Homo sapiens: one gene and its partners. Each later gene encodes a partner of the first gene's protein in a complex. Each region holds a gene or a part of one and is shown in the gene's direction. Other genes may lie near its edges.

What was found.
Region 2: the proteins of MMP10 (region 1) and TIMP1 are in contact, whole or in part, in a crystal structure (PDB 3V96), measured with the Homo sapiens proteins. Residues at the interface, in NP_002416.1 of Homo sapiens: Phe170 (codon at 6,843), Tyr171 (codon at 6,846), Gly177 (codon at 6,864), His178 (codon at 6,867), Ser179 (codon at 6,870), Leu180 (codon at 6,873), Ala181 (codon at 6,876), His182 (codon at 6,879), Ala183 (codon at 6,882), Tyr184 (codon at 6,885), Pro185 (codon at 6,888), Tyr191 (codon at 6,906), Asp205 (codon at 6,948), Ala206 (codon at 6,951), Ser207 (codon at 6,954), Gly208, Val214, His217, Glu218, His221, Phe226, His227, Thr231, Tyr236, Pro237, Leu238, Tyr239, Asn240, Phe242, Thr243; in NP_003245.1 of Homo sapiens: Cys24 (codon at 5,196), Thr25 (codon at 5,199), Cys26 (codon at 5,202), Val27 (codon at 5,205), Pro28 (codon at 5,208), Asn37 (codon at 5,235), Leu57 (codon at 6,694), Tyr58 (codon at 6,697), Pro87 (codon at 6,973), Met89 (codon at 6,979), Glu90 (codon at 6,982), Ser91 (codon at 6,985), Val92 (codon at 6,988), Cys93 (codon at 6,991), Arg98 (codon at 7,006), Thr121, Cys122, Cys155, Leu156, Ser157, Ile158, Gln173, Leu174, Gly177, Ser178, Glu179, Lys180.
Region 3: the proteins of MMP10 (region 1) and TIMP2 are in contact, whole or in part, in a crystal structure (PDB 4ILW), measured with the Homo sapiens proteins. Residues at the interface, in NP_002416.1 of Homo sapiens: Glu155 (codon at 6,335), Asp169 (codon at 6,840), Phe170 (codon at 6,843), Tyr171 (codon at 6,846), Ser172 (codon at 6,849), Pro176 (codon at 6,861), Gly177 (codon at 6,864), His178 (codon at 6,867), Ser179 (codon at 6,870), Leu180 (codon at 6,873), Ala181 (codon at 6,876), His182 (codon at 6,879), Ala183 (codon at 6,882), Tyr184 (codon at 6,885), Pro185 (codon at 6,888), Pro188 (codon at 6,897), Gly189 (codon at 6,900), Leu190 (codon at 6,903), Tyr191 (codon at 6,906), Val214, His217, Glu218, His221, His227, Pro237, Leu238, Tyr239, Phe242; in NP_003246.1 of Homo sapiens: Cys27, Ser28, Cys29, Ser30, Pro31, Val32, Gln36, Ala37, Asn40, Ser57, Gly58, Asn59, Asp60, Tyr62, Asn64, Pro65, Ile66, Lys67, Arg68, Thr91, Ala92, Pro93, Ser94, Ser95, Ala96, Val97, Cys98, His123, Leu126, Cys127.

The regions. Positions count from the first base shown.
Region 1 is NC_000011.10:102,777,546-102,785,580, reverse strand, and holds the start of MMP10 (stromelysin-2 preproprotein), read left to right. Parts: upstream 1-4,952; 5' UTR 4,953-4,989; coding exon 4,990-5,094; intron 5,095-5,835; coding exon 5,836-6,077; intron 6,078-6,219; coding exon 6,220-6,368; intron 6,369-6,831; coding exon 6,832-6,957; intron 6,958-8,035. UniProt on the Homo sapiens protein: Can degrade fibronectin, gelatins of type I, III, IV, and V; weakly collagens III, IV, and V. Activates procollagenase.
Region 2 is NC_000023.11:47,578,290-47,585,435, forward strand, and holds the start of TIMP1 (metalloproteinase inhibitor 1 precursor), read left to right. Parts: upstream 1-4,146; 5' UTR 4,147-4,185; intron 4,186-5,118; 5' UTR 5,119-5,126; coding exon 5,127-5,247; intron 5,248-6,646; coding exon 6,647-6,726; intron 6,727-6,915; coding exon 6,916-7,042; intron 7,043-7,146. UniProt on the Homo sapiens protein: Metalloproteinase inhibitor that functions by forming one to one complexes with target metalloproteinases, such as collagenases, and irreversibly inactivates them by binding to their catalytic zinc cofactor.
Region 3 is NC_000017.11:78,915,349-78,922,449, reverse strand, and holds part of TIMP2 (metalloproteinase inhibitor 2 precursor), read left to right. Parts: intron 1-7,101. UniProt on the Homo sapiens protein: Complexes with metalloproteinases (such as collagenases) and irreversibly inactivates them by binding to their catalytic zinc cofactor. Known to act on MMP-1, MMP-2, MMP-3, MMP-7, MMP-8, MMP-9, MMP-10, MMP-13, MMP-14, MMP-15, MMP-16 and MMP-19.

The DNA.
Region 1 (8,035 bases):
TTAATAGCTAACCAGTTTTCCCAAGAATTGAATAAACTGGAAGTGAGAAACCGTTAGGCATTTCTCAGTCTTAGTTACTGAAATTGCAATGGATTGTAGACCTGCATTCTGTCTGGATCACATCAGTGCAGCACAGGCCAAGAGGAACTTCAAGTGACAGAACAGATAAACATAGATCAAATGAAGTAGCTGTGTTAGCAGGATGATCAGAGAGTTGGGAGAAAAGAACAAAAGCTAAGGAGATAAATTGAAGGCATGTTCAGGGGTGAGTTCAAGAATGAGAGATAGGCCAGGCGCGGTGGCTCATGCCTGTAATCCCAGCACTTTGGGAGGCCGAGGCGGGCGGATCATGAGATCAGGAGATCGAGACCATCCTGGCTAACACGGTGAAACCCTGTCTCTACTAAAAATACAGAAAATTAGCTGGGCGTGGTGGCGGGCGCCTGTAGTCCCAGCTACTCGGGAGGCTGAGGCAGGAGAATGGTGTGAACCCAGGAGGCAGAGCTGGCAGTGAGCTGAAATTGCGCCACTGCGCTCCAGCCTGGGAGACAGAGTGAGACTCTGTCTCAAAAAAAAAAAAAAAAAAAGAATGAGAGATAAAGAACAGTGTCAAGACATAAAAGAAAAAAAGCTGGGGAAGAACCAAGGTCCAAGCCAAGAGGTTGTTTTAAAACTTTTGTTATTACTATTATTTTAAATATATTTGGGGGGTACAAGTGCAGTTTTGTCACATGGATATATTGCATAGTGTTGAAGTCTGAGCTTTTAGTGTAACTCTCACTGGAACAGAAGACATTGTGCCCCCATTAGATAATTTCTCATCCCTCTTTTCCCTCCCACCCTCTTGAGTGCCCAGTGTCTATTATTCCACACAGTATATCCATGTGTACACATTATTTAGCTCCCACTTGTAAATCAGAACATGCAGTATTTGACTTTCTGTTTCTAAGTTATTTCACATAACGTAATGACCTCCACTTCCATCCATGTTACTGCTAAAGACATTACGTCATTCTTTTTATGGCTGCATAGTATTCCAAACAGTATGAGGATTTCTCAAAGACCAAAAAAATAGAACTACCATTCAACCCAGCAATCCCACTACTGGATATCCACCCAAAGGAAAAGAAATCATTATGTCAAAAAGATACCTGTACTTGTATGTTAATCGCAGCACTATTCACAATAGCAAAGATATGGAATGAAGCCAAGAAGTTTTTGATAAACATCCAAGTTGTAGTCATGAAGGTTTCTTCTGGCAGTTCTGAATAATCTCTTCCCACTTGTTAGCTTTTGATCGTGAGCTTATTATTCAATTTTTCTAATCTCAACTTTGTTGGGTTGTTCTGAAGTTTAAAAATAACTCACATTTAAGAACTGACTACAGTGGAAGCTCAATACCAGGCGTTTCACCTTTCTTTAAGTATGAGCTCTGTATGCTTCCTTGCCTGACCCTATACATACTTCAGTAGGTTTAACAAGTAATGAATTATATAAAGACAAACATAGGACTCACCTGCTCCAGGGCATTAATTTCTACCAGGTGTCATGGTTTAATGCAGGACAAGTTTAAACACTAACATCATTTCTGTGAGGCATGTGCTACCCTATAGGCTCCCAATTATAGTCGTAGCTATTACTACAATGTAAACTTTCATTGTATCATTACCACATAATAAAATCCATTAACAGGATGTGTCAACACTAATAAAGTTATGACTCAAGCGAAAATGGGCATCTCACAGCTTGTCAAATCAGGGCCTAGGGGCATTGTCACAGATTTGTCAGGCCAACAAGCTTTGTCTGTTAAAGGTGTTGGAGTGAAATAAGAAGAGATTTGTTCCCCAGCATAAAGCATACAAAATAACTTTGTGAGTGTGGTTATATCCACCCCATTTTACAGATGACAAAATAATGGCCTGAATTAATTACACACAGTCATGTGTGACTTAACAATGGGGACACATTCTAAGAAACATGTCCTTAGGCAATTTATCCATTGTGCAAACACCATGGATTAAACTTACACAAACCTCTATGGTACAGCCTACTACATGCCTAGACTATGTGGTATAGCCTTTTAAAAATTTCTTGGGGAAAGTTATCCTCCCATCTCAGCCTTCCAAGTAGCTGAGAGTAGAGGTGTCAGCCACCATGCCCAGCAAGCCTATTACTCCTAGGCTACAAACCTATACAGCATGAAATTCTACTGAATACTGGAGGCAATTGTAACATAATAATAAATATTACTGTATCTACACATATTTTAACATTAAAAAATACAATAAAAAGATGGTATTAAAGATAAAAAATGGTACAACTATATAGGGCACTAACCAGGAATGAAGCTTGCCAGACTGGAAGTTGCTCTAAGTGAGTCAGTGAGTGAGTGGTGAGTGAATCTGTACACTATGTAGACTTTATGAACATTGTATGCCTAGACTACACTAAATTTATAAAAGCATTTTTCTTTCATCAATATAAATTAACCTTAGCTTACTGTAGTAACTTTTTTACTTTATAAACTTTTTAATTTAAAACTTTTTTTGACTCTTTTGTAATAACACTTAGGTTAAACACAAACGTTTCACAGAGGTACAAAAATATTTTTTTCTTGATATCCTTATCCTATAAGCTTTCTACTATCTTTAATTTTTTTTATTTTTTAAACTATTTTTTGAGAATGAAGACACAAAACACGAATTAGCCCAGGCCTACACAGGATCAGGATCATCAATATCACTGTTTTCTACCTTCACATCAAGTTCCACTAGAAGGTCTTTCAGGGCAGTAACGCTGATGCAGCTGTCGTTTCCTATGATAATAATGCCTGCATAGGGCAGTAACCATGGAATGCCTTCTGAAGGACCTGCCTGAAGCAGTTTTACAGTTAACTTTTAAAAAAAAGGTACACTCTAAAATAAATGATAAAATGTATAGTAAATGCATAAACAGTCATTTATCACTATTATCAAGAATTATGTACTGTACACAATTGCATGTGCTAGACTTTCGTATGGCAGCACAGTAGGTTTGCTTACACCAGCATCATCACAAACACATGGGTAATGTATTGTACTATGACATTATGTTGGCTACAATGACAATAGCTGATGGGTGCTTATCAGCTCTGTATTAGTTTGTTCTTGCATTGCTATCAAAAATACCTGAGACTGGGTAACTTATAAAGAAAAGAGATTTAATTGGTTCACGGTTCTGCAGGCTATATGAGAACCATGGTGGCACCTTCTTCTGGGGAGGCCTCAGGAAACTTACAATCATGGCGGAAGGCAAAAGAGGAGCCTGCACTTTACATGGCCAGAGCAGGAGAAGAAAGAGAGGGGCTAGGTGCTACACACTTTTAAACATCCAGATCTCATGATAACTCACTCACTCACTATGACAAGAACATCACCGATGGGATGGTGCTAAATGGGCATGAGAAATCCGCCCCCGTGATCCAATCACCTCCCACCAGGCTTCACCTCCAACACTGGGAATGACAGTTCGACATGAGATTTGGGCAGGGACACAGATCCAAACCATATCAAGCTCCATTATAATCATATGGGACCACCATCATATATGTGGTCCATTGTTGACTGAAACATTATACAGTGCCTGACTGTACTTGCTCAATGTCCAGCTGACTTTATTTGAGTCTAGTTGTCAGTCCTTCTCCCTCTGATATTCAAGCTGATGTCACCACACTGTAGAGCAAACTCTTTGGCAACAGTAAGTCACAAGTTGACTTGGCTGGCTCAGTGTATATCCCAGTTTCTCTCCAACTCTGGCTTGGAAGTCTCAGAGCCTCTTGGTTCCTGGAAGTCTCACCTGTCCAGGCTACCTTAAGTAGGGTGGGGATGGTGGGCGATACTGAAAAGATCATTCCTACACACTTATTATTTTAATCTCTCATCACTTTGCAATTATGTACTTCAGACATGGTAGAGTTAATTTATCTTTAGTGAGAGAAAAATATAGTTCTTTACTATAAGAATTTCAGGGTTCTTTATATTAACAGGTTAATTTGACAAAACAGTTATTGCAGACTTACTGTGTTACTGCGTAAAAAGCACTTTATTTGGCTGAGAAAACAAGAAAGAAAATACTATTTGTGGGCAGGGGTGGATCGTTAGACATGTGAAAGAAAGGGAGGATTTGAAATCATTTCCCATTACAGATCTCAATCCATCTCCTCCTTTGTACCTTAAGAGGAGAAAGAAAGGGGGAAAAGAATTTTTAAAAGCAAAGAAGAGGAAGAGGGTAGGAGGACCATTTCAGTCTAACATGCAATTTAATTTTTTCCATTTAACAAGTTTTATGGAGCAGTTACTTTGAACATAATTATACACTGGGAAATGGAGAATGAGTGAACACCAAAGCTTCTCTCTTTGGATTCTTTTCTCTACATGCTCCATGTCCTTCTCACAATACCCCTACTCCACGGCCAGTAAATCCATCTGAAAATCAATAATAGCTATTGTAAACAAGGACTCAAGAAGTGAAATATTTGTTTTAATATCTTTGTAAATAACAACTCCCACATTTAGACCACGACTATATTTGGAATTTATTTCCGTTGACCTACTTAATTCTTACCTGCTTATATTTAAGTTTAAAACATAATCTTCTTAAAAGAAAATTGCACTGATTTTAAAATGTCAAAACATTTGGCATTTTACCAAGCTTGTCAGCTCTCTTTAAGTAAATACAGAGACGTGAATTATCTAGCCAATTCTTTTTCGTCTTTACAAACACAGAAATCATTTCCTGGGGATTAATCATTCTTTCAAGTTTAGAAAGTTGAAGGAAAATACTGATGTAGGCTGTATCACCATTACATTAAATGTTTGTGAACATTCAGACTTAAAAAACACATGCATGAATCATACTGTTGGTGATCTCAGCATTGTCTCTGTATAAAAGAAAGGCCACTAGGGGGTAGAGCTAGAAGCCCAGTAGACAAAGAAGGTAAGGGCAGTGAGAATGATGCATCTTGCATTCCTTGTGCTGTTGTGTCTGCCAGTCTGCTCTGCCTATCCTCTGAGTGGGGCAGCAAAAGAGGAGGACTCCAACAAGGATCTTGCCCAGGTAATTAACGGTGGCATCTATTGCAGCTACTGGCCAGCTCAATTGTGTCTACTTGGTCTTCCAATACAAAGCAGAATGATTAGACTAGAGATCACTTTGTTAGAAAACTGTAGCATCAGAGAATAATTAACAGGCTGGAGGTGGAAATTATTTTTATGTTAACAGAGAAGAAAAGAAAGGTTCAGAAAGGGAATATAACTGCTCAAGGTTACAATAAAATAGTAGCAGTATATTTGTGGCTAAGTGAAAAGAACATATGGAGAATATATGAAACTCCTCTGGCTTTAGAATTTATTTAGTTAAAATTATTGGGGAGGGGAGCATGCTAAGTTTGATCTTTAAATCATATCAGGTAATAGTTTTCATATTTTTACTTGTCATATTTGGACAAAAGAGTTTACCACACTTCAGTCTTAAACCAGGTCTATAATAACAATGTAAGTAGAAAAGGTTAGTATTCTAACTTTTCACAAAACTATGTTAAAAGAGGGTTTCTTTAAAAACTAACAAAAATAATGCTAGACTTGAATTTTCAATCCCCAATTCCTTACTTGACTAGCAAACTAACATTGCAATAAAATTTAAAAATTTGTATGAAATGGGGAGTCTTAATGAAAAATCAAATTAAATGTGATAGCCTCTTTTGTTTTAAGAAACTAGAGGAAAATTACGATGGATTATAAAAGTTGGATAAATGATGGAAAATCACAAAAATGCCCTAAAAATTCTATTTTCCATTAGCAATACCTAGAAAAGTACTACAACCTCGAAAAGGATGTGAAACAGTTTAGAAGAAAGGACAGTAATCTCATTGTTAAAAAAATCCAAGGAATGCAGAAGTTCCTTGGGTTGGAGGTGACAGGGAAGCTAGACACTGACACTCTGGAGGTGATGCGCAAGCCCAGGTGTGGAGTTCCTGACGTTGGTCACTTCAGCTCCTTTCCTGGCATGCCGAAGTGGAGGAAAACCCACCTTACATACAGGTAATGGTTCAGATTAGTTTTCACATAATATTGAAACCTTATAAGTTACTCGTCATATTTGGATAAGTAACATAAAGTTTTCTTTAACAATTTTTCATAAAGGCAGGAGAAAATAACATCCTCTTCAATTTTTCTCCTCCAGGATTGTGAATTATACACCAGATTTGCCAAGAGATGCTGTTGATTCTGCCATTGAGAAAGCTCTGAAAGTCTGGGAAGAGGTGACTCCACTCACATTCTCCAGGCTGTATGAAGGAGAGGCTGATATAATGATCTCTTTTGCAGTTAAAGGTAATCAAATAAAGCATCCATTTATCTGGTGTATTCATCTGTTCAGACTGCTATAGCAAGTTACCTTAGACTGGGTAATTTATAAACAACAGAAATTTATTGCTCACAATTCTGGAGGCTGGGAAGTCCAAGATTAAGGTGCCAGCAGATTTAGTGTCTGATGAGAGCCTATTCCTCATAGATGGTACCTTCTGTGTCCTCACACGATAGAAAGGGCCAGGAGGTTCCCTCAAGCTTCTTTCATAAAAGCACTAATCTCATTCATGAGGGCAGAGCACTTACGACATAATCACTTCCTAAAGACCTAACCTCTTAATACTATATTTCATTGGGCATTGAGTTTCAACATATGAATTTGCAGCAGACACCAACATTCAGACTATAGAATCTACTGTTGTTTAATTGGAACAGGGTAAAAAGAAATTCTGAACACTTATATTTCCATTAATTTGTTCCCTATCAGAACATGGAGACTTTTACTCTTTTGATGGCCCAGGACACAGTTTGGCTCATGCCTACCCACCTGGACCTGGGCTTTATGGAGATATTCACTTTGATGATGATGAAAAATGGACAGAAGATGCATCAGGTGGGTCGTAAACCTCTCGGGAACATTTCAGGAATAATGTCCAATCCTACCCAAAAATAATTGGATTATCTAGAACGAGCAATAAATCGAATATACTAGTAACTGAATTTTTTTATTACCTGAGTTTTAAACAGAAGTACTGTTTGTTTCAATCATTATTGAAGAATTTTATAAAATGTCTGTATTTTCATGTTTGCCCCCACCAAGTACAATATTGTAAAAACCATTCAACCTCATCTCCACAACTCAGGATCTTGTGGGGGTTTGAGGATCAGCATAATTAATAATGTTTTTCATCACTTTAATGATAGATGATTAGGATAGAATGAATTCCATTAAACCAGTTCCAATCCTAACATTTGCCCTCAGGTTTTCTTTCTTTCTTCTCATTGGCCTCCTTTTTACTTAAAAGTAGAGATCAGGAGAAAATGCCAGGAACTGAAAAAAAACTGTTAGGTCATCTTTTCGAATAAACATGTCACTGTCTCTAGCTTAGATGGGTTTTTTTCGCCCTAAATTGGCTTGGAAACACTTTACATCTAAACATAATGACTAAAATTAACTGTATGCTATTTAATTTTTAAAATGGCTTCTGAAGTTTAGAAACACACTGTTGAAATAATCACTATTTCTGACAGTGCCTGGGATTTTTAATGTAAATGCAAAGAACATCTTTCCTGAGTACAAGACTCAGGAGGCTGAGGCACGAGAATCACTGAACCCAGGAGATGGAGGCTGCAGTGAGCCGAGATTGTACCACTGTACTCCAGCCTGGGCAACAGAGTGAGACTCTGTCTCACGAGACTGAAGTTTGTGTTGCATGAAATGATTGCCTTTTATTTGAACAACTGTTCTTTTCTGCACAATTCTTGGAGCCTTGGTTAAATAATATCTACTACTAAATTCAATAAAACCCTTTTTATAATATTTTTAAAAAGCTGAATCTAGCTGTGTTTGTGCTGCAGAAAACTGTTATTGGGCATGTTTCTGTTTTAAACTAAAGATTGTACACATCCAATGGCACCTATTACTGGGAAGATTTTTGACAATCAAAAATTATTTGATTATGGCCAGGCAC
Region 2 (7,146 bases), on another chromosome or scaffold:
AGGCACACTCCACAGAACCGGGCACATACTCAACACACAGGCACACATAAAACACCCCTAGGCAAATGCACAGCAAATAAGGCCCTACACAACACACAGAGGTGTATGCACTTCTAGGTATTCACATCACCACTGGGACCCGTAAGAGACCCACGCCACATTCCTGGGCATACAAAAAGTATATCTAGACACACACACAACATGCCTTGCCACATATACAATACAGAGAGGCTACACACAACCAGAGACACCCACAACTCAGTTTGCAGAAAACATTCCTGGGCACTCCCACCCCAACACACATACAGTCACACATTCAGGCGAGAGGGATACCTCAAGTCTCCCCCGCTCCTGGATGGGGTAGAGGAAACCAGGTTGGACGGCCCTAGGCTCCCCGCTCCCTCCACCCCCACCCCCACAGCACAGCTGCACAGTGCCCCTCTGGTGGCCCTCCCTCTCGCTGACAAGGTAGAGAGATGGCATTCCCGGAGGGGCTGCTGGGGCGGTGGTGGTTCCCAGTTCCCGACAGGCACAGGAAGCCCGCAGACTCAGGGTGACCGATTGACCTTAAGGCCTCCCTCTGCACACCCCCCCTTCCTCATTTCCCAAATGACTGGCGTCATTATGAGGTGGGCTGAGAGGCACGATGTTGGGACGGGGGTTTGGGGCATCTCTGGGCAGCGGGCCAGGGAAACGATGCCGAGGCGGATGCATACAGTACCACCCAGGTGTGCGCACAGCACACAGAAGTGCATAATGCACTCAGTTACATATGCAACCCAGATCCGCTTTGCCGAGGCTGGTAGACAACTCCCAGAAGTAACACACAAAACACACAGGCACATGCTCGACTCTTAGCAATGGACACACAACACACCAGAGAGCTGTGCGTACACACCCATACCTCCCCCAACAACCCTGAGGTTTCTAGGTGCCTCTTTTCGTTAACTGTCCTTGTTTTCTCTGGACTTGAGCCTGAACACAACGCTCTGTATATGTGTGTGTGCCCATACATGTGTGCATGCAGAGTGCTTTGAACTCTGACTCTGGGAGCTCCTGGAAAGCCCTAGGTCTGAATTTTGGCCTTTCTTCTTCCTAAGGCCATGAAGGACACAACCTCTCCCTGAGCCTCAGTTTCCCCATCTGCACAAAGAGCACAATGAGGCCCAAGCACCTGGTATGCTGTGGGCATTGTCAGGTGTCCGCTTTGCACATGCCTCCTGGACCCCCATGGGCCCCCACACCCATCCAGCTCCCCAGATGGTCACACACCCCTCCATGAACACCCCTCCCACTCTCCATTTCAAAACTGCACAATAACCGGATCCACACGACTCCTCATGTAAACAGTCGGCAACACTCTGTGCTGACTCAGGTTTCAAAGAGTTGGCGTCAGAACCAGAGTCAGCGAGGGGCCAAGGCAGGACTTCCCCTGCCCTCACTTCTCCCTCGGAGGCACCAGGTTACTCAGCCCCGTCTCATTCACTCTCACTGTCCCACTTTCATAATCAGCTCCTACAGATTTTTTTGGTTTACTTCCCTTCCTCCCTGTTTTTGTCGCCCCCCCACCCTCCCCCCACCACCCCGCAGCAGAGCCATTTCTTCATTCTCATTCCTGGGTAGGTCACTCAGCCCTTTTGTGTCTAAGTTTCCTCATCTGTATAATGAGAACATGAGCTATATCTAACTCACAGGGATATTGTGAGAAATAAGTTAGTTATTTTGGGAAAAATGCTCTACATGGTATCGGGCATACAGTAAGCCTCGATCCTCAAGAAGTGTTGGGTACTCTTATTATTGGCTTAACATCTCTTCCTTAACTAACATTAATGAACAAAGAGGCAATCGGGATTGATTAAATGAGATAATGTCTGTAAAAAGACTTTAGAACAGTGCTTTTTTTTTTTTTTTTAAATAGAGACAGGGTTTCACCATGTTGCCCAGACTGGTCTTGAACTCCTGAGCTCAAGCGATCTGCCTGCCTCAGCCTCCCAAAGTGCTGGGATTACAGGTGTGAGCCACCATGCCCGGCCAAGTGCTTTCTTAAAAAATAGATTTAGGCTGGGTGCCGTAGCTCACGCATGTAATCGCAGCACTTTGGGAGGCTGAGGTGGGCGGATCACCCGAGGTCAGGAGTTTGAGACCAGCCTGGCCAACATGGTGAAACCCCGTCTCTACTAAAAATACAAAAATTAGCCAGGCGTGGTGGCGTGTGCCTGTAACCCCAGCTACTGAGGAGGCTGAGGCAGGAGAATTGCTTGAACCCAGGAGGTGGAGGTTGCAGTGAGCCAAGATCTTGCCATTGCACTCCAGCCTGGGAAACAAGATCGAAACTCTGTCTAAAAAAAAAAAAAAGATTTAGAAGGCCGGGTGTGGTGGCTCACGCCTGTAATCCCAACACTTTGGGAGGTCGAGGCAGGTGGATCACCTGAAGTCAGGAGTTCGAGATCTGACCAATATGGTGAAACCCCCGTCTCTACTAAAACTACAAAAATTAGCTGGGGGTGGTGGTGGTGTGGCTGTAATCCCAGCTACTCAGGAGGCTGAGACAGGAGAATCTCTTGAACCCCGGAGGCGGAGGTTGCAGTGAGCTGAGATCGCGCCACTGCACTCCAGCCTAGGTGACAGAGCAAGACTCTTGTCAAAAAAAAAAAATAGATTTAGAGGGTACAGCTGCAGTTTTGTGACATGGATATATTACATAGTGGTGAAGTCTGGGCTTTTAGTGTCCCCATCAACCAAATAGTGTACATTGTACCCATTAGGCAATTTCTCATCCCTCACATTCCTCCCACCCAGAATAGTGCTGGATACGCAGTAAGCACTCCATAAGGGCTGCTGGTAGTTTTTGTTGTGTTCTTGTTATTGGGCTATCATCCCTGAGTTAATCAAACTTAATTAGCAAGGGAGTATGGTGAGTGAATGAGATAATTTATACAAACACTTTAGCACATAGTACACAGAAAGTGCTCAATAAGTGGCTGCCATCATCACTACAATTATTATTATTGATCTATCCTCCTCGAATTAAGGATGTTAATCAGAACCCCAGGGAAGGTTCCTGCATTGTCAGAAAGCTGGTGGGCAAGGATTGCCCCACCCCACCCCCCACCAGGGGTACAGGTCCATGGGGAGGGGGCAGGGCAGGATGGGGTGGGGATTAGTTTTCTACTGACCCACTCACTTGCTTCTTTCACCATCATTCATGGCCACCCCCTTCCCAATGCTCATTCATTCACCCGCACCATTCCCTGCTTGCTAGGACGGTGCCACTCCTGAGTTACAACCCTGGTGCCAGGTAGCCTCTGTTTGAATCCCGGCCATGCCCTGTGATCTTAGGAAAATTCTACAGTTCCTCTACGCCCCATATTTCCTCATCCGTAAAACGGGAATAAGAACCGGTACCCATCTCAGAGATTTGTTGTGAGCTTTGAGTGAGATAAACTATGCTGAGTGCCTGGTATACAGTAGGTGCTGTATAAATGCCGGCTATTTGCCTGTGTTATTTGAGACCCTGGCTTTGGCTCCTGGCCACCTGAGTTCCAGTCTCAGTTCTGCCATGTATTGACTCTGTGATCCTGGGTAAGTCACTTAACCACTCCGTGCCTCAGTTTCCCCATTTTGTATTCCTCCCCTTTCACCTGCCTTATCTCCCTCCACTGCTGCTACTTAATTTGTTTCCTCTCTGCCACCCCTCACCAGCATGTCAGACATACAAAACAAGGGATTTTTGTGTGCTTGGCACACAGTAGATGCACAATAAATGTTGAAGGGCTGAACTAATTTGGGTTTGAGTCATAGGGAGCTTGGGGGATGTGGGTGATTGGATAGATTCTGGAGACTTTAGGGGACTGGGCCGGGGGAAATGCGGCCTCTAAGCTCTCCGCTGAGGCGGCTTGGAAGGAATAGTGACTGACGTGGAGGTGGGGGAGGTGGCTGGCCCGGGCGAGGCCCAGGGAGAGGGAGAGGAGGCGGGTGGGAGAGGAGGAGGGTGTATCTCCTTTCGTCGGCCCGCCCCTTGGCTTCTGCACTGATGGTGGGTGGATGAGTAATGCATCCAGGAAGCCTGGAGGCCTGTGGTTTCCGCACCCGCTGCCACCCCCGCCCCTAGCGTGGACATTTATCCTCTAGCGCTCAGGCCCTGCCGCCATCGCCGCAGATCCAGCGCCCAGAGAGACACCAGAGGTAAGCAGGGCCCGGGGTGGCCCAGCAGGGACCGGAGCTGGGCTGCAGCTTGGGTGCTGGCCACCAGGCCCGTGCACTCCCGTGCCAGATGCCTGTCTACTCAGCTTGGCCTGCGGGTACCAGGACCCTGGGCTAGTCTAGGGGGAAGAGGGTCGGAGGCTGGAACTGCTTTCCCAACCCCGAGGCTCCAAACTCCCTAGAACCCCTGACATCCGCCCCCAATTCCCCCAAACCCATGACCCCCTAATATCACAAATGCTTTCCAAATCCCCCCGCAAATTCCTTCATCCCGAAATTTCCCTCATCGCCCCCTAAATACCCACCGCTAACCCCTGCAGCTCCCTAAACTCCCCCAGCTCCCCAATCCCCAGTTCCCCAGCTCCCAAACTTCTTTTGCCCTCAAATTCCTCAAGTATCCCCATTGCCTTAAGCCCCCAAATTCCCCCAACCCCTTCAACCTCCAAACTCCCCCAGCTCCCTAAACCCCCAACCTCCTCCAAATTCCTCAACCTCCCTAAATTCCCCCAGCCTCTTATATCTCTTAATATACACAACCCCTAAACTCTGCCGTCTCCAAACTCCTCCAGCCCCCAATCCCAAATTCCTCACCCCCAAACTCCTCAACCTCCAGAATTCCCCAATCCCCTCATTCCTCAAACTTCCTCAGCCCCCTTCTCCCCCAAGTGCCACAACCCCATAACCCCGCAACTCACTCAGTCCCTCAATAATTTAAACTCTCCCAACTCTCTAAACCCTAAATTCCTCTGCGCTCCCCAATCCCCTTAAAATCCCTAAGCTTACCAACCCCTCAAGCCCAAATCCAGCCCCCTAATCCCCCCCATAGGCTGCCCCGGGGCAAGATGGGGTGGATGACCTGCCCAGGTCAGCAGATCAGCTGGGCCGGGGCCTGCCTGACATCCCCCTTCCCCACAGAACCCACCATGGCCCCCTTTGAGCCCCTGGCTTCTGGCATCCTGTTGTTGCTGTGGCTGATAGCCCCCAGCAGGGCCTGCACCTGTGTCCCACCCCACCCACAGACGGCCTTCTGCAATTCCGACCTCGGTGAGTCCTCACCCCACTCAGCCCACACACTCTGCCTTGGTTTCCCTTTCAGTCCAGTGGGGCTCACCATGGCACTTACCTCTAGAATGATTCCACTCGCCCCTGCACTTCCTCTGCTTTAGCCACACTGGCATCCTCACACTTCCTTGAGTACTCTGTGCCCAAGCCCACCACAGGATCTGCATGCTGGCTGCTCCCTCTGCCTGGTACACTTTCCCCCCAGGTATCCACATGGGTGGCTGCCTCAAACGTCACCTTCTCAGGATGGCCTTCCCTGGCCATCCTGTTTAAAATTTTAACCCCTGCCCCTTAGTACTCCTGATCTCCTGTTAAACAGAAAAATATTCAGTGATACTTGTTATAACACAGTAAGGAAGACCATATTCAGGACCATGGTGATGGGTATAGGAACCACTGCAATGGGATCTTGCAGTCGGTGGGAGAGATTGGGCTCAACACTGAATATAGCATGGGCCAGTGGGAATGTGTAGCTAAGGAGCAGTGTGAGGGTCTGTGGGTGGAAATTACTAAGAAGAAACATCAGGGGTAAGGGGGATTCTGGCTAAACCGACGTAACAGGATTCTTGCTGAAGGCAGGCCAAGGGGAATCAGACATCACCTGGGGGATGGTGGAAGATGAAGAACCCAGTCAGATAGCAAGGATGATCAGGTATTGAGGATGATCAGAGATTGAGGATGATCAGAGATTGAGGATGATCAGGTATTGAGGATGATCAGAGATTGAGGATGATCAGGTATTGAGGATGATCAGAGATTGAGGATGATCAGGTATTGAGGATGATCAGAGATTGAGGATGATCAGATATAGAATATAGGGGTTCTTGCTAAACTGACTTAGCAAGGCTCTCGGCTAAAACTGGATTTTACAAGGAAGTGCACAGATGGGCCTAGGAGGAGGTTCAGGAGCCTGAGTAAAGTTTGGTCAAGCAAAGAATCTTTGTCAGCCCCTTACCCAGGTCTGTAATTCCCCATTATACTTAATGTCTAACATTCCATATCCTTATTTTGTTTGTTCTTAGCCTGTCTCCTCCTGGCTAGAATGTGAACTCCACAAGGAAAGGGATTTCTGTGTTTTGTTCACTGTTGTGTCCCTAACACCCAGAACAATGTCTGGCACACAGTGGGCACTCCCAAATATTTGAGGAGTAAATGAACAAATCAATGTATGAAAATGGCTTAAGCAGTGCCCGGCAAAGAGAGACACTCAACATACAGATGAATCAATGAACAAATGTGTAAATCACTTTGTGTGCTGTCTGGCATCCAATAACCCCTATTTATGTATGCGCTTTGCTGGTATGATGATGATGATGATGATGATCTTATTTTTATTGGCTCATGCAGTCCATTTGACTCATATTTCCCTCCTCTCCTGCAGTCATCAGGGCCAAGTTCGTGGGGACACCAGAAGTCAACCAGACCACCTTATACCAGCGTTATGAGATCAAGATGACCAAGGTATCCCCTGCCCCCGCCTCTTTCCCAGCATTTTCTAACATCTTCCTCCTGGTCAAAACAGAAACTTCTGGCCACTGGTTGGTGCGAGAAAGTTGGCTGTGATCTTGGGATGCTATATGACTTCAGGGAAGAACCTGGAGTGGGAGGATTATGTCAGTAAAAGAGACACTTCCCCTCATCCATCAACAGATGTATAAAGGGTTCCAAGCCTTAGGGGATGCCGCTGACATCCGGTTCGTCTACACCCCCGCCATGGAGAGTGTCTGCGGATACTTCCACAGGTCCCACAACCGCAGCGAGGAGTTTCTCATTGCTGGTGAGGCACCGTCCCCGCGCCCTGTGCCACACCAACCAGTCCCTGGGGCGCGGCCTAGCAACCACGAGGGGGCGAGGCTCTGATGGGAATGGTCCCACTGGAAA
Region 3 (7,101 bases), on another chromosome or scaffold:
ATACTCTATTTCCAAATAAGGTCATATTCATAGGATCTGACTAGATGTGCATTTGAGGGGGGACGTAATTCAGCCCATACACCAGGCTGCCTTCTCTTATTCCCAGTCACCCTTTCCGTGCTCAACCAACTTGGGATAAACAACCCAGGACATCCCAGGGTAGGGTCCCGGAACAAATCCCACAGGGACGACAGCGGCCTGTCTATTCTCCAGTGTTCGATTCTCCTCGAAGCGATGCAGGTTTGTGACTTTCTCAGCAATGGTTCCCCATTCTGGCTCAGAGCAGAATTGCCTGGAAGATTCTTAAAGATTGCTCAGGTCTAGGTCCCTTTGCAGATACAGAGGGTCTTGCTCAGACTTCGGCTTTTGCAGTTTTAAAAGGCCCACAGGTGATTTAACCAGGGCTGTGACCCAGGGGTCTCAGAAAGGGGGTACAGTGGAGGTTAATAAAGGCTGGCTTGTTATGTGGCAAGCTGGCTCCTTTTACTCTTGGCTGCATGCAGCCTTGTTAAATGGCTTGGTGTCTACAAGAGGCAATTGGCTTAAGAAACAGTCAGATTTCTGTCTGCCCGGCTGAGGATTTCTGGGAGGTATCTCCCTAGCAGCTCTTGCAGTTGGTAGGACCGGAACTGTGGTCGGCAAAGATAATTCATGATGAGGTGGTGATGTTTAGGATAAGGGATGGTAAGAGGTGACCTGATTTCTTCCTGGAAGGCCCCAGGTCCTTGTCCTTTCCAGCAAGGCCAGCACAAACGGGAAGCATTTTGTGTCTCAGTTACAGTACTGTTCAAATGCGCTGCTGGCCCGGCTCCCTCTCACCCAGTGAAATCCTTCACATCTACTGCCAGCCTGCACAGCTACAGGGATCTGGCTGGAAATTAGCTTTGGGCTCACCATTCAGGCAGTCCCATGCCTGGAGCCACTTAGCCAGCTGAGCTACTTGGCAGACTCGGGCTGCTTGGGCCCGTTTCTGGACTCAAGGGTAAAGCCAGGAGCTCTCTGGATGCAGAGAATAAAACCTCTCCTCTGGCTTGGGTGGCAGTACCTAAGGCCACACATTATCCTAGAAGACCTCTGCGATGACATCTTCCTCACATGTTCCCACCTCCAGAAACTGTCCTCTGCAAATCCCCCGAGGAGCTCCAGCTCCAGCTAGAGAGGGGTCCACAACCAAGAGGGGGAACAACTGCTATTTTCTGGGGTGAACAGCCAAGGGTGACCTGGTTCCTGGGGGACACAGTGACAGGGACCAGACAGATAGTAGGGGCCACCCCAGAAAACACACAGCACGCAGTCAAAAATGGCTCTGTCTTCAGGACACGTGCTCAGGAAAAGCAACACAGCATCAGATTCATGTGAGCTGGGTCAGGCCTTCCATGCGAGGGGGCGGCGTGGCGCTTTTTAAAGAAACTGTTGGCAACTCGTTGTGCGAAGTATGTGATCGATCTGTATTGTCAGTTTTGTTCATCTTGATTTTCATATTGGGCTTGTCTGTGTTTCAACAAGCAATTATGGAGTGGCTGCCTCTGCCCCCGGGGATGTAAGGGAGAAGCAAGACATTGTCCCTGTGGTGGGGGATGCAGGGGGTGGTACATCTTGGCACCAGGCGGTGTGGAAGGGGGTTCCTGCTGCCCGGCGTGGTGAGCAGGCCTCCCCTCCTCAACTGCCCAGGTGTGGTATAAAGTCAGTCCACTCAGTGTGGTTTCGGTAAATAATTAACAACAGATAAACTTTCGAAATAACCAAAATTCAGGAGTAATCATGTGACAATGTGAAATGCATTTGCAAGATGTGAGGATAGAAGGCCCCATGGTAGGTTGAGGAGGGAGCTGTGGGGAGAACTGAGGCTCTTCGGCTTGGTTTTGAACAGCGTCCTTGGAGGGACAGGATCTGTCAGGGGAGTCACTGACCCCTGAATTACTGGCAGCTCCCAAGGCAGGGGGACTGGAAGAGCAGGGAGAGCTGTGCACAGCCTGGAGGTATGGCAGGTGCTGGAAGGAGCTCTCTGGACAACACACGTTTCTCCCTATCTGGGATCTGAGGACAGTGCCAGCCTCAGAGCCTCTCGGGCCTCCCCTATTTGCACCCTTCTGGGGGTGCAGAGCCACGTACGCAGTCCTGGCCTGTCGTTTGTGAGCTGCAGGTGGGCTTGGGTACTGCCTCCCTCCTCCCTGCTGTCGCAGCCAGGTTGCTAGGTAGATGCCACTGGTGTGGGCTGAGAGGTTCAGACTCTGTGGCGACATCTGAGCACATGGAGAACAGGGCATAGATGACTCCTGGGAGACTGAGAGGCGCGGGCAGCCGTCTCCAGTCCTGATGCAGAACCACTGACTCGATGCAGTGGGGGTCGTGTGTAGGGGTGAACGTCTTGGGTTCGGAAACAACAAAGAGGTCTGCCCGAGGCTTCCCAGGCAGCTGCGAGGAGGGATGCAACAGCAGGGAGGAGGAGATAAGAAGGAAGCAAAGACAGGCAGACGTGGCAGTGGCAGGGGCAGGAGGGGTGCATGCCCTGGACACTCTCTCTGTCCCCCGGTGCACGCACAGGCTCACAAACCAGGGACGGAGGGCAAGTGGCTGCATGGCTAGGATGGTCTTCTTTTCTTTTTCTTTTTTTTCGAGATGGAGTCTCACTCTGTCTCCAGGCTGGAGTGCAGTGGCGCTATCTTGGCTCACTGCAAGCTCCGCCTCCCGGGTTCACGCCATTCTCCTGCCTCAGCCTCCCGAGTAGCTGGGACTACAGGTGCCCGCCACCATGCCCGGCTAATTTTTTTGAATTTTTATTAGAGACGGGGTTTCACCGTGTTAGCCGGGATGGTCTCGATCTCCTGACCTCGTGATCCGCCCACCTCGGCCTCCCAAAGTGTTGAGATTACAGGCTTGAGCCACCGCACCCAGCAGATGGTCTTTTTCAAGAGGGGAGGGCAGAGTGAAGAAATCAAGGTAAGGGAGGGTGAAGAAGCCGCATCTGGAGGACGGCACTGGGGACCGTAACCCCTGGTCATTTAGCGGCAGCAGGGTGGGGTGTGCACAGGTGTTCTAAGCCAAGGGACCAACTGCCCCAGGAAAGGTGAGAGTTCTGGGTACAGAGTAGGCCAAAGAGGAGCCTGGGGATTCAGGGGGACCCACAAGGAGATTGGGGCCAAATGTCACGGCTCTGGCTTGTCATGTGACATCTGCATTCCATCCCGGGACCCACGCAGCCACCAAAGATGTTCTGGCTGTGGAATGACAGCGGGCGTTGCCCAGGGAGCCTGGTAGAAGGCAGCCGCCTAACTCCGCGTGCTGGAGCGGGCCTGGGGGTGGCACTGGAGTTTCAGGACTCTCCAGGTGCTGCTGCCGCCCGCCAAAGTTGGCATAGACCAGTCGTCTCCGGAGGGGTGCCCAGTACAGCCTCGGTGCTAAGAATGTTATGAATAGTTAGCATATGGATTCAGAGTTGTACTCCAAATATAATTTTTTTTTTTTTTTTTGAGACGGAGTCTTGCTGTGTCACCCAGGCTGGAGTGCAGTGGTGCAATCACAGATCACTGCAGCTTCAATTTCCTGGCCCAAGCGATTCTCCCACCTCAGTCTCCCAAGCAGCCACCACGCCCAGCTAATTTTTTTAATTTTTTGTAGAGATGGGGTTTCGCCATGTTGCCCAGGCTGGTCTCGAACTCCTGAGCTCAAGTGATCTGCCCACCTTGGCCTCCCAAAGTGCTGGGATTACAGATGTGAGCCACGGTGCCCGGCCTATATATACTTTTTTAATGAATATCTGATATTGTGAGTGCTTGGCCAAGGTTTTGTTTTTGTTGCCCGTGGGTCTGAACAGAAAGTGTGGAGGCTGACCACCTCAGTGTCGGGGGGTGGAGTAAGCAGGCAGATGAGCTGCCCTGAGATTGCTGGGAGGAGGGAAGGCGGGCAGACCCAGACTTCCCAATGGAGAGATGGTCAGGAGCATGGATGTCTCAGAGTGGCAGGCAGGATGAAGCTGGTGTCCCCAGGACCTCCCAGGGCCCACCTGCCTGGACCCCTGCAGCCTGTGCCCTGACGCCCTGGTGCCCTCGTGCATTTGCTGGGACGTGGCTGTGCAGCGGCAGAGGGAAGGGCACAGAGACCCCGCCCCGATGATTCCCACCTTACAACTGAGGGCTGAGCTACTCCCCAGTCAGCCAGGTCAGACTGGAGCCCAGGGAAAGCTTCCGGAGCCCCAGCAAGTCAGGTTGAGAGTGTGTTTACGCTAAGAAGCAAATTGAGGAACAGTCTTTATAAAAGAGGGGTCCTAACCCAGAGTGTGTGAACACCCAGCCAGAGATAGGCCTGGCGGGTTTGGGGGTGGTCACAAGCCCGGAAACTGTAAGTGAAGTTGTGTGTGTGTGTGTGTGTGTGTGTGTGTGTGTGTTTGTGTGTGCACGCGTACGTGTTTTTTTTGTGGACAGTGGCAGCCGCCAACTTCTCAAAGGTGCCTGTGGCCCTCCAAACGTCAAGTCACTGCCATTTAAAAGGAGTCTTTTTATAGGTTTCGAGTCTTCTGTTTCTTGTGAGTATCTGCCTAGTCTCGGAGCTGAGCGATGGTAACGATCTTGCCTTTCTCTCCTCTTCCACCCTCATTCTGCACTCGGCCGCCCTGGGCAGCCAGGATCCGCTCAGACACTACCACCACGAGGGGAGTCCGAGGCAGACCTGTAACCAGCTCTGGGGAAAGGATGCCATCAGTGTCCTTTGGCCTCCTAGCTGGTCTCAGGGATGGCTCCAAAGACCTGGGAGGTTCTGTGGTTGTCTTCCATGGGGAAGACGTCCTTGGTAGACGGCAGCTGCTCTTTGATCTCAAACTCTGATCACAGCTGGACCACACATGGCCTGAGGGAACTCCAGACCTCACCAGTTAGGAAGGGCCTGGTGTCTATGTCTTAGATACCTGCTTCTTACAGAATTTATTCACTTAAGTGTTTTTATATTTTGTTTTACAATAGAATTTGGGTGCCTACCGTACACAGAAATACTATGGCAAGTGTGTCAAGGAATTATTTAGTTTTCTGAGACGGAGTTTTGCTCTGTCGCCCAGGCTGGAATGCAGTGGTGCGATCTTGGCTCACTGCAACCTCCGCCTCCCGGGTTCAAGCAATTCTCCTGCCTCAGCCTCCCGAGTAGCTGGGATTACAGGTGTGTGCTGCCATGCCCAGCTAATTTTTGTATTTTTTTTTTTTTTTTTTTTTGAGACGGAGTCTCGCTCTGTCGCCCAGGCTGGAGTGCAGTGGCGGGATCTCGGCTCACTGCAAGCTCCGCCTCCTGGGTTCACGCCATTCTCCTGCCTCAGCCTCCCAAGTAGCTGGGACTACAGGCGCCCGCCACTACGCCCGGCTAATTTTTTGTATTTTTAGTAGAGACGGGGTTTCACCCTGTCGGCCAGGCTGGTCTCAAACTCCAAAGCCATGGTGCCCATCTTCAAGGAAGTGAGCGCAGGAATGCGAAGATCATCTTGCAGGCTGCACCTCTTGCTAGAGACTCTTACCGAGGTTAGGACACTGTTGAGATTGTGGGCCCTGAGGGGTGGATCTTATCAGAGCTAAGATAAGCCCCGAGGAAAGGTCCTGGGGTGGGTATGGGGAGCCCAGGGTGGCTGTGGTAGAGAGTGTACCACAGGGGGACAGAGTCATTAGAACAAAGTATGGCCAGGCTTGAGCCCAGGTGGAGCAGCAAAGCCTGGAGGCCCGGCAGTGGGACCTGGCAGTGGGACTCCGGGGAAGGCTTTATGGCCCCTGCACTGGGGGAGAGGGGGCAGACAGGAGGGGGATGACACTGAGGAGGAAGGTGGTGTTGAGAGGCTCGCAGTTACCAGGGGAGCAGAGCTCCCACCTGCACTGGGGAAGACCCAGGAGATGGAAGGCAGGCCCTGAGCGGGGCCATGGGTCGCGGGCAGACACAGGAGATGCCTCTGGAGCTTGACCCAGTGCCTGGGAGCCAGATGCCCTCTAACCTGGTCAGGAGCTCAGGCGGGTAGAGGTCTCTGTTGAGTTCTGCTGGAATCTGGTGACCAGAAAGTCTCGGCGAGAGGGATTTGAGCTAGAACTTCAGCAGACAGTGGAAATTGTGTAACGGGGCCTTGGAGGGAACAGGAAACGGAGCATTGAGGGGGAAGGGAGCCAGCAGTAGCGAGGGGAACTGACATTCATAGCAAACAGGGTGAGCGGGGGTCAAATGCTGGCCCCAGATTGAGTCCAGCAGAGCGATCCGGGACAGGTGGCCTCTCTCTGCCCCCACTTCCACACCTCCAAAAAGGAGAGGCGAATTTCCTGCCTCCCAGGAAGCTCTCGGAGCTAGTGGGGGACACCAGCTCTTTCTGCATCAAACCCTGGCTCTCCCTGTCTTTGTGTTCTTGTTCCTCCCCACCCCGCCCTGAGGGAGGCCTGGGAGCAGCCAGGGAGGTGAATCATGACATGGTGATAATGACTATGGCAACAATAACAGCTGGCAGAGGTGCCAAGGGCTTGGAGGTATGTTCTTGCTCTTCACTAGTGTCAACCCATTTCCTTCCCTATCCTCATCCCCATTGTACAGACGATCCAACGGAGGCACAGGCCCACTAAGGAACCTGCTCAGGGTTAGCTGGCTAGGAAATAGCAGAGTAAAAGAAGAGATGGTTTTTAGGCCGGGCACGGTGGAATCATGCCTGGAATCCCAGCACTTGGGGAGGCCGAGGCATGTGGATCGCCTGAGGTCGGGAGTTCAAGACCAGCCTTGCCAACATGGTGAAACTCCATGTCTACTAAAAATAAAAAAATTAGCTGGGCGTGGTGGTGCACGCCTGTAATCCCAGCTACTCGGGAGGCTGAGGCATGAGAATCGCTTGAACCTGGGAAGCAGAGGTTGCAGTGAGCCGACATCGCACCACTGCACTCCTGCCTGGGTGACAGAGTGAGACTCTGTCTCAAAAAAAAAAAGAAGAAAAAAAGAGAGAGAGACGGCTTTTAAAAGGAGGTACATCAACAGAATGGTGCTGATTCAGACTGATACTGGCTTGGGGATGAATGGTCTAGGCTGTGGAGCTGGGCTGAAGCTCTACAGGTGACGGATGGAGCCACTGAGGAGGGAGAGGAGCTCCTGAGGCTGGCCTTGTTC